3 linked regions of the Homo sapiens genome follow. The protein of the gene in region 3 interacts with the protein of the main gene of each other region in a pairwise test. Each region holds a gene or a part of one and is shown on either strand. Other genes may lie near its edges.

The links.
Region 1: the proteins of MPP1 (region 3) and SGSM2 interact in a two-hybrid assay, tested with the Homo sapiens proteins (one large-scale study listed by BioGRID and IntAct).
Region 2: the proteins of MPP1 (region 3) and MAP3K20 interact in a two-hybrid assay, tested with the Homo sapiens proteins (one large-scale study listed by BioGRID and IntAct).

The regions. Positions count from the first base shown.
Region 1 is NC_000017.11:2,361,433-2,365,081, forward strand, and holds part of SGSM2 (small G protein signaling modulator 2), read left to right. Parts: intron 1-204; coding exon 205-367; intron 368-676; coding exon 677-838; intron 839-1,405; coding exon 1,406-1,473; coding exon of another isoform or gene 1,474-1,556; coding exon 1,557-1,702; intron 1,703-2,032; coding exon 2,033-2,167; intron 2,168-2,567; coding exon of another isoform or gene 2,568-2,626; coding exon 2,627-2,751; intron 2,752-3,163; coding exon 3,164-3,231; intron 3,232-3,464; coding exon 3,465-3,625; intron 3,626-3,649.
Region 2 is NC_000002.12:173,260,784-173,264,432, forward strand, and holds part of MAP3K20 (mitogen-activated protein kinase kinase kinase 20), read left to right. Parts: intron 1-279; coding exon 280-354; intron 355-2,961; coding exon 2,962-3,112; intron 3,113-3,649. UniProt on the Homo sapiens protein: Stress-activated component of a protein kinase signal transduction cascade that promotes programmed cell death in response to various stress, such as ribosomal stress, osmotic shock and ionizing radiation.
Region 3 is NC_000023.11:154,798,902-154,802,550, forward strand, and holds part of MPP1 (55 kDa erythrocyte membrane protein), read right to left. Parts: intron 993-3,649; exon of another isoform or gene 856-992; coding exon of another isoform or gene 844-855; intron 1-843. UniProt on the Homo sapiens protein: Essential regulator of neutrophil polarity. Regulates neutrophil polarization by regulating AKT1 phosphorylation through a mechanism that is independent of PIK3CG activity.

The sequences.
Region 1 (3,649 bases), on a different chromosome or scaffold from region 3:
ACAGCTTGGCATGTCAAAGCTCTTCGCCCCGGGCAGGAGCCGAGGGACGGGGAGGGGAATTTTGGAAGGAAGCCAGGGTATCTCCCTGGCCTGCCCTTGGCTTGCCCTTACCCCTTGCCTCACCACAGGTATGGGGAAGAGGAGCTTTTCTTCCTGCTCCCCCGTCTTTCCCAGGCTCAGATGCCGTTTCCCTTTGTGGCCTAGGTGCAGTGGAGGCTTGCCTCTTGCATCAGCTGAGACGCCGTGCCGCTGGCTTCCTGCGCAGTGACAAGATGGCAGCCCTGTTCACCAAGGTGGGGAAGACGTGCCCAGTGGCGGGGGAGATTTGCCACAAGGTACAGGAGCTGCAGCAACAAGCAGAGGGCAGGTGAGCCCTGGGCCAGCCCCTTCTTCCCTCCTTTCAGCTCTTCCCACTTGGCAATTGCTACTTCCTAGGACACCCATCGGAAAGTTGGCATCCTGGGCCTGTTCCTTGCAGGGCCTCTGGGTGAGGGATCAGCTTGAGGGAGGGGATTGGTTCCTTGTGGGCACAAGGCTCTGTACCCCTCCTTCACCTCCCAACCCCAGTCAGTTCTCTGTGCTCCCATCTTGGGGTACCAAGCCCCACTCCCAATGCCAGCATTCTGGGGTTTACCCCTAGACCACTGCACTCCTGGAGCCCTCCCCGCCTTTGCAGGAAACCCTCAGGGGTCAGCCAGGAGGCCCTGCGGAGACAGGGCTCAGCCAGCGGGAAGGCCCCGGCCCTCAGCCCTCAGGCCTTGAAACACGTATGGGTACGCACGGCGCTCATCGAGAAAGTTCTGGACAAGGTCGTGCAATACCTGGCGGAAAACTGCAGGTGACCGCCCCGTTCCCCAAAAACTGCAGGTGACCACCCCGTTCCCCCCAAAACTGCAGGTGACCGCCCCGTTCCCCAAAAACTGCAGGTGACCGCCCCGTTCCCCAAAAACTGCAGGTGACCGCCCCGTTCCCCCCAAAACTGCAGGTGACCGCCCCGTTCCCAAAAACTGCAGGTGACCGCCCCGTTCCCCAAAAACTGCAGGTGACCGCCCCGTTCCCCAAAAACTGCAGGTGACCGCCCCGTTCCCCAAAAACTGCAGGTGACCGCCTCGTTCCCCAAGCAGCCCCTCCCTTGACCCGTCTCCCGACGTCCCTCAGCCCCAGCCCTCAGGATGCTTGCCTGTCCGTGACAGCCTGTAGGCAACCCTCCATCTCCCCGTCCCCTTCGGTGCCCTCAAGGCATTGGCCATACCAGGCACCTCACGAAGCCCAGTCCCTAAGGACTCACTGTTTCTTGATGACTGATCTGAATCTGGTCTTTGTGGGGATGTCCCTACCTGGTGAGCTTGACTGCCCTGGAATGAGCCCCGGAGCCTCGGCAGTCACACTGTCTGTCTCCTGGCAGCAAGTACTACGAGAAGGAGGCACTGCTGGCAGACCCTGTGTTCGGCCCGATCCTGGCCTCTCTTCTAGGTGAGCCTGAGAGCACAGGCACAGTGGGTACGGGGCAGGTGCTGAGGGAGCATCGTCTGGGCTGGCTGTCTCTGTCTCCACAGTGGGACCCTGTGCCTTGGAATACACTAAGCTCAAGACAGCCGATCACTACTGGACTGACCCCTCTGCTGATGAGCTGGTCCAGCGGCACCGCATCCGGGGTCCACCTACTCGCCAGGACTCCCCTGCAAAGCGCCCAGCCCTGGGGGTAGGTGCCCCCTCCCCACCCTTTGGGCTCATCTGGGCTATGCCCATGGGCCTGTAGGGACGGGAAACCGGCCTCTCTACGGGACAGGCCTTGGAGATGCCCCAAGGTAGCGGCTGCCTCAGAAGAGCCTTCTCCGCACAATAAAACTTAACACAAATGCCGGGAGCCCATGCTGGTCCGTGGCTGGAGAGCAGAGGGTGGCTGGGAGTAAACCGGGGCAGGAAGGACCCCTGGGGTCAGCTGGAGAGGGTCAGCATGGAAGCGTGAGGGTTCCCAAGCCTTGAGGCCAGTTTCCCAAGGCTGGAGGCTGAGCCCCGGCCTTCCACACAGATCCGGAAACGGCACTCAAGCGGCAGCGCGTCGGAGGACAGGCTGGCTGCCTGTGCCCGCGAGTGTGTGGAGTCCCTGCACCAGAACTCACGGACGCGGCTGCTCTATGGCAAGAACCACGTGCTGGTGCAGCCGGTAGGAAAGCTTCATCCTGCCATCCCTCCCCGAAGGTCCCCGAACGAGACGACTGGAAGCCTCTAGCCATGGCTATTCCTTTCCTGAGGAGCTTGACCAGAGACGGGGGGGAGAATGGCCCCAGCCTCCCAACTCCCTGTTTCACACGACTCACGCCCAGCCTTTAGTTGGCAGGGGACAGGAATGGCAGCCAGCAGGCGAGGGGAGTCCGCAGTGTGGGTATGGCTGGCCTGGAATGGACCTGGCATCCAGGAGGCTGGCAGGAGAGAGTCAGTGGCACCAGGCTGACCAGGGAAACTGAGTCCTGTTTTCCTGTGCTTCTGCCCCGTCCCTAGTCCAGGACCCCGTGACTAGCCTAGCTTGGCCTCCCCTCCTCCCAGCGGGAGCTCATTTCTCATAGGCCATCCCTGAGAGCCTCTCAGCCCTTCATCGTCGGTCTTCCGGTGTCTCCCGCTGTAGAAGGAGGATATGGAGGCGGTCCCTGGCTACCTCTCCCTGCACCAGTCTGCAGAGAGCCTGACTCTGAAGTGGACCCCCAACCAGCTCATGAATGGGACTCTGGGGGACTCCGAGCTGGAAAAGAGGTGGGGGCTTTGGGACTCAATCCCAGGAGCCAGGGCAGGGAGTGGGTTTGACCTCAGGCAGAGGGATGGAGAAACCCCGCTTGCTCCAGGAGGCCAACCTCACTCTTTATTTGGACGCCAAGAATAGCAGGGAGCGGCTGCCTGGAGTGATTCCCAAGCTCTCTAGGACGGAGCCAAGCCTGGCCGTGAAGAGGTTTGTCTGAGCCAAGCTCTCAGCGGCTGAGACGGACAGCTGTCCATGTGCCGAGCGGGCAGCACAGATCTCAGGGGTCATGGCTGGCTGTGTGCACCTCTTGGCTATGGTCATCCTATCTTCAGGGGAGTTTCGTGGGGTGGTAGGACCAGGAGACAAGGAAGGAAGGAAGGATGGCAGGTCTTTGGACACAGTGACAGCAGTCTGGTTCCTTTCTAGCGTTTACTGGGACTATGCCCTCGTGGTGCCCTTCAGCCAGGTCGTGTGCATCCACTGCCACCAGCAAAGTAAGCCTGCCTTGTCCTCGGCTCGGGTGGGAAGGGAGAGGCTGCCTTCTGCCAGCTGTGCACTGTGCGTGGGGCCTGTAAGACTCCTCGTCCTCCTCCCATCCTTGTTAATGGGGCTCCCAGGCCATGCTGTAGCCCAGCCATCTGCCTCCTACCCAGCCTGGGGGCACTGGCCAGCAGGGTGTGATAGCCGACGAGAGGGCCTCAGCCGCACTCTCCACGTTCACCCCCAGAGAGCGGTGGCACGCTTGTGCTGGTGAGCCAGGATGGCATCCAGAGGCCGCCGCTGCATTTCCCACAGGGAGGACACCTGCTGTCCTTTCTGTCCTGTCTGGAGAATGGGCTGCTGCCTCGGGGACAGCTAGAGCCCCCGCTGTGGACCCAGCAAGGGAAGGTAACTCGGGTGGGAGGCTTTAGG
Region 2 (3,649 bases), on a different chromosome or scaffold from region 3:
GATAGGATTGAGTGATAGCAAATGTTATATCGGAAAAGAAGATTGTGGGAGGCCATGACTAGCTGTTTACAAATATACAAAAGGATGTCTTATGAAAAGCAAAACTTCAAACATTAGCATGTTGTGAGTGATCACATGAGAACCAACAAGGCTTTCATGATAATCTGATATTATGCCCCTATTTGCTAATTGTGTATGGCACAACCGGCCTCAAAGAAACATACTATAGTAGAGCAGACTGTGTTATGGTACTACACCATCCTAACTTTTGTTTTTCAGCCACCATTTGTAATGGAGAAGTGGATTGTAGGAATAGCAAAAAGTCAGACTGTGGAGTGCACTGTCACATATGAGGTAAGCTCTGGGGGCAAGAGGCTGGTGGCCTCACCATCAGTTAATGAATATAAATTTATCTGTTATCTCAGAGCATATAATTTATTGGGAGATATACCCAGAGCATATAATTTATTGGGAGTAAACCAACCAACATGAACATAGGAAGATCAATATAATTTCTCTCACAACGTGTTGGGAAGAAAAGAGAACAGGATAAACTTACCCAGATAGCGACTGAGGTAGTACTTCAGTCATTCATTAGTTATGGATTGAACACCTTCTGTATACCATGTAAGATGTTTGGTATTGGGGATACTAATAGTTAATACTAATTTTTTTTAAATCAACAAGATCTTCATGGCTGGTAGGACATACACCTTACAAGGTACGTAGACCCGGTGGGAGTGGGTGGAAGGCAACAGTTATAGTACAGTCTTGGCACACCTGGAAATATTAGTGTGCACCCACCATCAAAGGGACATGCATTTCATTCATTCATCAATTCATTCATTCAAGAAACATTTATTAAGGATCTACCATGAACCAGGCACTATTAGAGGTGCTTACACCAGTTTGATCACACTAACTTCATGTAAATCAATACTGAAAAATATCGTCCAGGCGCAGTGGCTCACACCTGTAATCTCAGTACTTTGGGAGGCTGAGGTGGGCAGATCACTTGAGCCCAAGAGTTTGAGACCAGCCTGGGCAGCATTATGAAACCCTATCTCTACAAAAAATACAAAAAGTAGCCAGGTGTGGTGGCACATGACTATGGTCCCAGCTACTCGGGAGGTTGAAGTCGGGGGATTGCTTGAGCCCAGGAGGTTGAGGCTGCAGTGAGCCGAGATCACACCACTGCACTCCAGCCTGGGTGAGACAGTGAGACCCCTGTCTCCAGAAAAAAAAAAAAATACTGAAAGATATTATTATCCTCATTTTGCAGATAGGAAGAATAGGCTCAGAGAGATGAAAGGAAGTCTTGAGGTGTGAGGTCCTCACTGACAGAATTGTTGAAGTCAATTCCATGTTTTCTGACTATAAAAAACACTTTCTGCGCTTCCCTGGCTACCCTGTTAGCTCCCAGTGGCTGCAGTAAGATGAAGTCCACCTCAAAGAGGACTCTGTGAGTGTGGCATTTTGATGGTTTCCTGGGCTGCCAGGATTTGGCTTTTCAATATTAGAAATACAAACCCTGGGCCAGGCACGGTGGCTCAAGCCTGTAACCCCAGCACTTTGGGAGGCCAAGGCGGGTGGATCACCTGAGGTCAGGAGTTCGAGACTAGCCTGGCCAACATGGTAAAACGTCATCTCTACTAATAATACAAAAATTAGCTGGGCATGGTGGTGCATGCCTGTAATCCCAGCTACTCAGGAGGCTGAGGCAGGAGAATCGCTTGAACCCTGGATGCAGAAGTTGTGGTGAGCTGAGATTGCGCCATTGCACTCCAGCCCAGGAGACAAGAGCAAAACTGTCTCAAAAAAGAAAAAAAAAAAGAAAAGCAAAGCAATACAAACTCTGGCCAGTCCACTTATCCAGGCTGGAAGCCAAAAAGTTTTACAGCAGTTATTTATCCTCACCTGCTGGGGTGCACAGGTTGTCAGGGATGAGGCATCTGAGAAGTTATATTACTTGTCAAAGCATTGCTTGCAAGGTGCAAAACCCAAACAAAAGAGGCTGGTTGGTCTTGAGGAACTTGGAAACTAGACTACTCTACAGCCTGTTAACTGGTCCTCACTACCCAGGAAAAGCCCTCTTGTTAGTAATCGGACAATTAGAACAACCAGATTCTACCTCTGCCTGCCTTAGACAGTTTTGGAGACAGCACACCCAGTTCTCTTTTTCTTCTTCTCTCTCCCTCCTCCTCCTTTTTCAGACCCCATGATGATATGCCACTTTTGTCTGGGTTTTTCACTTCAGAGTTTTTTAAAACAGATTTCCCTAACCATATTGAATCCTGGAGACTCTTTAATTGACACTGATTGGTGACAGCTAGTGAGGAGGGAGATTTCAGAACAAGAAAGTAATGTGTCTTGACCTAGTGTCCTCTCCTTTTCCTGGTCCCCATTTCTTACTTCTTGATCCTGTCTCACTTTTGCATCTGAGACCCTTTCCCCTCCGTGCAGGTAATTCACCCCACCACCTTCACTCAGTTTCCTTGATGATCCAAATTCAGTCTTAGGCAAACATGGTGGTCAGATTTTCATTTATTCAACAAAATAGCTGTCATCAAGTACTATAAATAGAAGATGTAATTTTTTATTTCTTATTAAACAAAGAGGTAAGTTGAGATTTGTCAAATATAATAAATTCTGGGAAAAGACAACCATATTTTTTAGCTACTATAGTTTACTAAGAAATTTATGTTATAATCCATTAAGGAATAAGTGCTATAACCCACTAAGAAATAAAGTGGTTAAAATTTTTCTTTTCATTGAATTAGCATATTTGGGCCAACTGTTCAGAATATTTTCCTAGTGCATTATGATAGTGTTCTAAGAGGTGAAACTGAAGTGATATAATAACCTGGATGACTTTCTTTCCCATTTTATATATGTGTGTCTATTTGGTCATATGTTTCTATTTGTCTTTTTTTTGTCTTTTTCGTTTGTTTGTTTTACCAGAGTGATGTTAGAACTCCAAAAAGCACTAAACATGTCCATTCGATTCAGTGGAGTAGAACAAAACCTCAGGATGAAGTGAAAGCAGTCCAACTTGCCATTCAGACATTATTCACCAATTCAGATGGCAACCCTGGAAGCAGGTCCGACTCAAGTAAGTTAGTGTTCCCGTATTAGATGTGTGCTAGATTCCAGAAACTTAATTATGACATTTCCAGATGATCTAAAGACTCAGAGGATACCACCTCAATCAGTTAAGATCTATCTTTGAGCTTCGAGTAGCAGAAAACCCAGTTGCAACTGGCTTACTCCAATAATTCCCCAAGTGTGGCCCCAGGACCAGGAGCATCGGGATCACCTGTGAACTTGCTAGAAATCCAGATGCTCAGGCCCAAACCCAGACTTACTGAATCAGAACTCTGGGGATAGGAGCTGCAGTCTGCATTTTAAGGAGCCTTCCCAGTGATTAAGAACAACTCTAAAGTCCTTAAGCCACTGATTTAAACTGTAATAAAATTTATTATCTTCCATAACAAGAAGCCCAGAGGTAGGGCAGGCTCCAGGTGCAGTAAGATAAGCTGGCTCAACCATATTCAGAGAGTGGAATGAACCTTCCCTTCTTTCTGCCCTGCCATGCTCAATAGGCTGCCTTTGCCCTCGGCTCCTCTCCTGTTTACAGTCATCACACAAA
Region 3 (3,649 bases):
TTTTGTATTTTTTGTAGAGATGGGGTTTCTCCGCATTGGCCAGGCTGGTCTTGAACTCCCAACCTCAGGTGATCCGCCCGCCTCGGCCTCCCAAAGTGCTGGGATTACAGGTGTGAGCCACCATGCCTAGCTATGTCATATTCTTCTTATCCAGCTTTATTACAGTGATTGCTTTTTACATGTCAGCCTTTAAATTAAAGACTCAGCAAAGCTTACTAGAGGCAGAACCATTCCAGCTGGAAAAGTTCAAGAGTTGCCATCCCAAAGGTTGGTCTTTCAGATGTGCTTATCCAACAAGACGTTCCTCTTTACGATGACTAAGAGTCACTATCACGCTTACCCAGAAGTTGCAAATGATGACTAAGAAAAACGGAAACTTCCAACGTGGTAACTAAAGTACACACTTGCAACAGTAAGTTTTCCAAAAGCAAAGCACAATTTTCTCCACCGTGAACTTGTCCCTGAGCCACCCTGTCTTCATGAGACTCTCAGAAAGGGAGGGTCAGCTCTCTGTGACCTCATCTTACAGAACTCCTTCAACTAGTCCCCATGTCTCCTCATTACTGACACATCATAGGAGAAAAGATATGCAGACATATACTGTCAGTGACATGAGTAATGCTGAACAAATAATAAAGGTCAAAGGTACTAGATTCTATTTCTCAGAGTTCAGTTCACAACCTCCACATCATCCTCTCAAAGCAGCCACCATCATCTGTAGTGGATATAGGAGGCCACAGAGCTATGGCAGGCCTGCCCCTGACCAGTGACAAGGCAGGGCGGAAGTGGCTCTGTTAAGGATGACTGCTGGGATTCAGGAGGAGCCAGGGAATAAACACTCACCCAGGACTCCATGTCTGGCCTTTGTTCTGCAGCCTCTGGCCTTTAATCAGACAAAGTGCTGGAGTGGCAATGCCTGCCGCTCTGAAAGCCCCTTCAGAGGAAACATCTGCAGCAGGGTTCAAAGGGCAGAGGCAGTTGCTCAAAGGAAGCTGGAATTTAAAAAGAGATGAAAAACAAACTTGGCGGGGGGCGGGCGGTGGCGGGGGTGAATAGAGCAGGGGCAACTGAAGTTGGCTTTCTAATCCAAACAATTAGATTAAGTGACAGTGAACATAGGAAAGAACAAATATTTGCTCAGCCTACTGTTAGGCTCTTTGCCAACTGCTCCCACGTGGAGACTTAGAAAGCCAAGTCCAAGAAGGCGAGATGATGCCAGACAGCTGCCCAGCAAGCCCTGGCCCCAGGTGCTCGCAAATTCCCTCTCTTTGCATGGGCAGTATCCTATTCCACTTTGGGAAAAAACAAGAGAAACTGAGAAAGCCAAGGGTATTCTGAAGTATTAGAAAGAGATTAGCACTGTTTAACCACAAATGACAGGAACTAGGGAGAGAGGAAGGCCTAAGAGCCAGGATATTCTGGCAGGTACTGTCTTAAAATCATACATTAACCAGGTGCTTTGCTTCTCAGGTACTAAATCCATCTGGGAACACATACATCAACCTAAAGGCCAAGTCTCTAGAGATCCCTTCCCAACGAGCTTTTTCTACCCCATGCTCTCAGTACACATGCAAAGGCTTTTGCTTCCACTGGGGAAAAAAAACAACAGGAAACTCAAGTAGCACCGTTCCACACAGCAGAAACACAGGGCTGCAGATACCTGGCACTGAGTCCCCACACTGCCATTAAACCAGTGCCGGAGCTGTGTGCAAATAACAACACTCGTTAAATCAAATGCTCATCCCCATTCTGTGGTCAATATTTGAAGACATGAAATGGTTCAGAAACCTGTCTGAGCTTAAAGGATGAGTAAGCCTCAGACTCCAGAAGTTAAACTATAAGCATGGACTTTGGAGTTTGTGCAGGTACATGGAGAGAATGCAGGTGCTGTGTCCCTCACATAAAGGCTGCCTCTGCACTGTGCAGAATATTCAGAGATGATGGCAGGTGCTAAGGAGGAAAATAAAGCAGAAAAGGCCTCGCAAGGAAGATAACTTTTGAGGGAAAACCTATTATGTGTTTTGTTCATGTATATTTCTTCATATGAAAGAAAAAAAGAAAAGCAAGACTATGTTACGAAAGTTCCTCTTCCCCTCCTCTGGCGTCACTTCCCCTACCCCAGCCAATTTTGGAAATATGGCTATTTAGTCTTGCCTTTCTACACTCCACACCCAGAGTTCTTTTTTAGCAACACTGAAAGGTTAGAGACAACTCACTGCTTAGGAGAAAAATCTCTGCATCAACTAATTTTGTCTCCCCTCTTGACACTGTCTCAGGACATTATTGATTGTCACAACTTAGCGGCGAGGTATTACTTTTTACAACAGAATTATCAGACCCAAAGTGTTAACAGTGCCCAGGTTGGCAAACTCCAATTTAAGGGAATTGATCTTAACCTGAAATATCTGTTCCTGGTATTCTATTATACTTCAGTGTCTTGTGTAGGGAGAACAAATGAGTTAGAAAAGAATAGAACGTTCATGATGAAACTCAAATCTGCTTAGCCACAATAAAAGCAGATTCTTATCTGCAAGGTATCCTAAGCCCTTCCAGTTTTGAAAAAAAAGTCATGAAAGGCCCAGGGCGCTGGATCATACCTGTAATCCCAGCACTTTGGGAGGCCGAGGCAGGCGGATCACCTGAGATCAGGAGTTCGAGACCAGCCCGGCCAACATGGCGAAAACCTGTCTCTATCAAAAATACAAAAATTAGCCAGGCGTGTTGGCAGGCGCCTGTAATCCCAGCTAGCTGGGAGACTGAGGCAGGAGAATCGCTTGAACCTAGGAGGCAGAGGTTGCAGTGAGCCAAGACCACACCCCTACACTCCAGCCTGGGTGACAGAGCAAAACTCTGTCTCAAAAAAAAAAAAAAAAAAAAAAAAAAAACAAAAAACAGAAAAAAGTCATGAAGTTCCTGGAAGTGAAGGACAGGAAAGGCAGACTGGCTGAGACCACACCACATACTGGGGAAATTGGGCAGAGGACTAAATAATTTGAAAATTACACTTTACTTTCTAGTATCAGTTCTGTGAAAAGAAAAGCCTTGAACGGAACCATTTCCTTTGCAAAGGAAACAGCAAGATCCAAGTCTGCAGCGAAAGTTCTTTCTCAGGTGAAATTATAACTAGTCAGAAGCAGAGTCAGTGATCATGCACACCGTAGACTCAACCTCCTGCCATCGCAGAAGGTGCCGCACTCGGCATGCACCTTGGTGTCCGTGCACAGGCTGTTCCCTCTGCCCAGGTACCACCTGCCAGTTACAGCCTAGGTACTGCGAAATGCAAGAGCCCACTGTGCTGGGTGCCCCTCCTTGCTCCACAGCGCTCCACAGCTGCTTCTATCACATCACCACCACACTACTGTATTTGTTTCCATGTCTGCGTCCTTCCTTATTTGCCTCTTAGTTCCAGCAGCAGACCTGGAGTAGGCAACAAACAACACTGCGTCACACTCAGTGACCACCAGCGGGGAGTAATGCTGCATGTGATGGCCTAAGAACCAAGAAACAGGTTTTCTTGGTGGAAATTTGCCTGGAGCCTGACTTATCTGTTAGGTGATTTTTTTTTGATGTGGGATAGGCCCAAGAGAATTTTCAGGGATTCTCAACCAATTGCTTCAGGTCCTGGGGAAAGTGTTGCTTCAAACAGGCC